Regions from separate parts of the Homo sapiens genome. Here region 2 is linked to region 1. Evidence: fine-mapped expression QTL. Tissue or cell type: hippocampus. Region 1 holds a variant in brackets; the other region holds the start of a gene. All regions are shown on one strand. Distances are between the middles of the regions.

Region 1 (2,500 bases):
TCCCCATGTTGGCCAGGCTAGTCTCAACTTCTGGACCTCAGGTGATCTGCCCACTTCAGCCTCCCAAAGTGCTGAAATTACAGGAGTAATTTTATTCTCCCAAAGCTGCTGCTTTGGGAGAATAAAAAGTTGAGTATGGGCCAGGCATGGGGGCTGATGCCTGTGATCGCAGCACTTTAGGAGACTGAGGTGGGAGTCTAGCTTGAGCCCAGTAGTTTGAGACAAGCCTGGGGAACATAGGGAGATCCGGCCTCTACAAAAAAAATAAATTAGCTGGGTGGAGTGGCATGTGCCTGTGGTCCCAGCTACTTGGGTGGTTGAGGTGGGAAGATATCTGAGCTCAGGAGTTCCAGGCTGCAGTGAGCTCTGATTATGCACTCCAGCCTGGGTGACAGAGTGAGATGCTGTCTCAAAAAAAAAAATTCAGTGTGGCGTGATTAGGCTGGGAGGGTGGGGCAGGAAGGGATGACATTGGAGGGGTAGGCAAGGTGTAGATAGACCTTTCCCTATATTCTCCTATTTTTAAAAAATTTTTTTCTAAATAGAGATAGGGTCTTACTATTTTGCCCAGGCTGGGTCTCAAACTCCTGGGCTCAAGTAATCCTTCCATCTAGGCCTCTATTTTTTGTGCAAACGATTGAAATTATATTTTTTTTACCTGAATTTTTCCTGTGAACATTGGGTTATTTATAAACCTGTTTTCTGTTTCTTTCTTTCTTTTTTTTTTTTTTTGTTTTTGTTTTTTGAGATAGAGTCCAGCCTGGAGTGCTGTGGCATGATCTTGGCACACTTGCAACCTCTGCCTCCTGGGTTCAGGTGATTCTCCTCCTCTAGCCTCCTCCACGCCTGGCTAATATTTGTATTTTTAGTAGAGATGGGGTTTCACCATGTTGGCCGGGCTGTTCTTGAACTCCTGGTTTCAACAGATCCACCTGCCTCAGCCTGCCAAAGTGCTGAGATTACAGGTGTGAGCCACTGTTCTAGGCACTTGTTTCTGTTTCTTAATTTTGGCTGCTACTCAGTGGGAAAAAGCACAGATTGAATCTAATTGAGGCCGGGCGCTGTGGCTCACTCCTGTAATTTCAGCACTTTGGGAGGCTGAGGTGGGCAGATCACCTGAGATCCAGAGTTCGAGACTAGCCTGGCCAACATGGGGAAACCTCATCTCTACTAAAAACACAAAAATTAGTTGGGCGTGGTGGCTCATGGCTGTAGTCCCAGCTACTCGGGAGGCTGAGGCATGAGAATTGCTTCAACCCGGGAGGTGGAGGTTGCAGTGAGCTGAGATCAGGACACTGCCCTCCAGGTTGGGCAAGAGAGTGAGACTCGGTCTTAAAAAAAAAAAAAAATCTAGTTGAAAAATGTCATCGGGTCTTTCCAAATTTTTACTAGGAATTTGTTAAAATTAACCAGGCTGGAAGTCATTAT[A/AGTTT]GTTTGTTTGTTTGTTTGTTTGAGATGGGGGTCTCACTCTGTCACGCAGGCTGGAGTTCAGTGGTAGGATCTCGGCTCACTGCAACCTCTGCATCCCAGATTCAAGCGATCCTCTCACCTCTGCCTCATGAGTAGTTGGAACCACAGGCATGTGTCACCATGCTTTTGTAGAGACAGGGTTTCTTTCGCCCTATTGGCTAGGCTGGTCTCAAACTTGTGAGCTCAAGCGATCCGCCCACCTTGGCCTCCCAAAGTGCTGGGATTACAGGCATGAGTTACCTTGCCTTGCCCATTATAGCTTTTTTGAGGCTGGGTCTTACTCTCTGTCATGCAGGCTGGACTGCAGTGGTGTGATCTAAGCTCACTGCCTCCTGGGCTCAAGCAGTCCTCCCACCTCAGCCTCCTGAGTAGCTGGCACAGGCGCTACCTCACCCATCTAATTTTTTATTTTTTTTAGAGATGGGGTTTTGCCATGTTTGCCCAGGCTGGTCTAGAATTCATGAGCTCAAGTGATCTACCTGCCTCGGCCTCCCAATGTGCTGGGATTACAGACATGAGCCACTATGTTCAGCCATACCTGGCTAATTTTTAAAAAATGTTTTCAAGAGACAGGGTCTCCCTGTGTTGCCCAGGTTGGTCTCAAGTTCCTGGGATTACTGCTGGCCTTCAAAAGTAAATGTGAAATAATTAGTTAATTTCTCCCTCAGTTGACAAATAATGCCAAAAGTGATAAAGATTAATGAAATGTCTCTTTTTTTTTTTTTTTTTTGAGACGGAGTCTCGTTCTGTTGCCAAGTCTGGAATGCAGTGGCACGATCTCGGCTCACTGCAACGTCCACCTACTGGGTTCAAGTGATTCTCCTGCCTCAGCCTCCCGAGTAGCTGGGACTACAGGCACGCATCACCATGCCCGGCTAATTTTTGTATTTTTAGTAGAGACGGGGTTTCACTATGTTGGCCAGGCTGGTCTTGAACTCCTGACCTCATGATCCACCCACCTTGGCCTCCCAAAGTGCTGGGATTACAGGCATGAGCCACCGCGCCCAGCCATGAAATTTCTTACGTAGAAAGG
Region 2 (2,500 bases), 150 kb after region 1:
GGGACTCACCTGCGCTTCTCCAGTTCATTGTGCACTGACCTGCCAATGCCAGAGAGGATGAGGTGAAGGGGAATCAGCTACTGCCCATGCCCCAATCCCAGGGCCCCCAGTGGCTCAAGAGCCACTACAGATGTCTGCCCCAAACAAGTCCCCTGTGGAGAGCTCATGCTGGCCTCAGACACCAGAGTCCCCTGGCAGGGCGAGGGGAGTCAAAGACACACGGAGCCAAATGCTTAACAGAAGCCTGCCCAGGTGGGTATGAGGGCCCTAACAAGGGCGCCTGCCAGCTGGCCAGAAAGGACCTCCCAGAGGTGACAGCTAACTGCGGAAACAGATGTTTCCCAAGCCGGTACTGGAGGGAGGGGCATTCAAATAGGAGGGAACAGCATATGCAAAGGGCTGGGGAGAGGAGAGAAGAGGAGGAAGCCAGCGGGGGAGGTGAGTGGCCTGATGTGTGGGGTGCGGGAGTGCGAGTGGAAGCGGGACCCCAACTGCTGTTGGCAGTTCCCGGCACATCTAGAGGTGCTCAAGAAATAGTCCTTGAATGAATAGAAAGGTGTGAGTGTGTTTGGAGAGTGGGGAGATGGCAGGAGGGGTCTGAACGCTTCCTGGAGCGGGACACCTGGCCCAAAAGATGCAAGCAACAAGTGGGCAGAGGAGGGCCCGACCAGGGGCGGCGCCCACCCCCACCCCCACTCCCGCCGCCCCCGGCCTCCTCACCGCCCGCTGTCCTGCGCGCCAGGAGCCTGGGGGGGTCGCTTCTTCCTCCTGTGGATGGGGCCTGGACTGCGATGCGGGCACAGGGACGCATAACCATGCTCGGCCTCTGCCAGAGAGAGTCCCCGCCCGCGTCAGGCTGGGGCTGGACCTGGTCCCAGCGGCAGCCCCAGGCACAGCACGGTCAAGGAAAGGCTTTTGGCGCCAGGACCATTTCCCCCACCCGTCCCTGCTCTACCGCCCCGGGACTCCTCTCGAGTTGAGGGCGAGGCGCCCCGGGATTACTGTCCTAGGGCGGTGCATCCTTCAAGCTGGGAGCCAGGTCCAGTCCAGGCCCGTGTCAGCGAGGTCGCCGCCCGGAATTCAGCCAAGGGTCCTTCCTCACCTCTCTCACGGCGCTCCAGGAACTCGGCCGCCTGCAGCAGGACCTGGATGTTGCTGGCCAAGGGTTCCATGTCGGCGACAGCTGGCGGCGGGCCGGCCTAGGGTGCCGGCCGGAGCAAGCGGCTGCAGCACTTTTGTTACAAAGTAACTGACACGGTGCAACAAACACAGGGGCCCGCCCCGCCCCCGGGACGCCCCGCCCGCGGGAACGCCCAGCCCTTGGCTCCGCCCCTCTGGAACCCGCCACGGAGCCGCAGCCCACCCTCCGGCAGCCGCCCCGCCCCGAGTGGTCTCAGACTTTCCAGGGGCAGGTAAGGGCGCTGGCTCCAGGCCTGGCCCTGGAGCGAACCCTCAGGCTAACCGGTGCTGCTTCTTGCCCGCCTCACTCATCCACCCACGCCGGCTCATTGGCGTCTTTGATCTCAGCTTCCAGCCCCGTGCTAGTGACTAGCCCCCAACATAGCACGGCGCTCTGGGGGCCTGGTGGTCCCCTGAAAGCGCCGGGCCCAGCCGCTGCACGTGGGTGCCGCGGGGGCGGGGCCTCCGGCCGCCGCTCGCCCATTCGCACATGGCTTCTCAAGGATCGCTGTTGTCATCCTCGGGGCGGGGTCGGGGAGCCTCTGATGCCCTATTGGCTGGCGCTCTGCCCCGCCCTCTCCCGCCGCTGATCCACACGTTCGGGCGGGAAAAGAAGCAGGTTTCAAATTTGAAAACCCAAGCGATGGGGCGGGGTTGAGAGGGGAGCTGGGCCTCAATGCGCAGGCGCCGGCGGAGGGGCGGCGGACCCGGCTCCTGCCCTCCGGGGTCTGTCCCCAAGCCTGCCTGCCATCTGCCCCCGAAGGCCCCCGTGGGCCCCAGCTTCCTACTGTGTCGAATGGGAATAATATCTCGGCCCCCCTCCTCTTCTGTGAGGAAGCTGTTGTTGCTACGAAAACGTCAGTGGGGTAACAGCTTCCTCAGGCAGGCCATACCCTGGAGGCACGCGAAATGGCCTTTTCCGGGGCCTTGGGCTCTGGTATCCACGCAGTTGGGGTCCTCTCCTGTCACTGATGTCTCAGCTGTGTATGACTCAGGAGGTGACCTCCGTCTCTAAGCCTCAGGAGCCCTGCGACAGCGTTGAAGGATCAGAGCCAATGCCTCTGCGGTGCCCATGGCATGAAGGAGCCGCCCATCTCAAAGGCCAGTGCAACCAGACCGCGGCGTTTGCCTCCCAGGCAGCCCCTGCTTGCCTTACTCAGAGTCCATAAACCCTTCTTGCACCTGACTCTCCTAGCCGGCCGAAGGAGTGGCTGTGATGACTTCTAGCCTCAGCACCAGCAGGTGGGGCCACATCTGGGGACAGGAAGATGAACGCAGCTGTAGCAGGGTGGAGCATTGCTGCCAGCCACGGGCTGAGTCT

Which allele goes with the higher level. Alleles are on the strand shown, and positions count from the first base shown. SD is a standard deviation of normalised expression in the study named.
For the expression in hippocampus of the gene that starts at base 1,240 in region 2, allele A in region 1 goes with a higher level than allele AGTTT (moderate effect, 0.50 SD a copy in GTEx).

Evidence for each region. PIP is the estimated chance that this variant, and not a neighbour inherited with it, causes the effect.
Region 2: it holds the start of MXD3, and the variant in region 1 is fine-mapped to the expression of MXD3 in hippocampus (GTEx, PIP 0.98).

The regions. Positions count from the first base shown.
Region 1 is chr5:177,160,964-177,163,463 of GRCh38, forward strand. The region is part of intron 2 of NSD1 (nuclear receptor binding SET domain protein 1); the gene reads left to right. Among named protein-coding and RNA genes, the nearest start is that of NSD1, 28 kb to the left of the region's middle. The variant A/AGTTT (reference allele first, on the strand shown) is at 1,429.
Region 2 is chr5:177,310,659-177,313,158 of GRCh38, forward strand. It overlaps MXD3 (MAX dimerization protein 3), which reads right to left and starts at 1,240. Exons shown (of 6, transcript NM_031300.4): 1 at 1,103-1,240; 2 at 721-826; 3 at 10-39. The coding sequence starts at 1,172. RefSeq lists enhancers at 1-207, 465-664, 2,315-2,374 and silencers at 1,215-1,394, 1,525-2,094.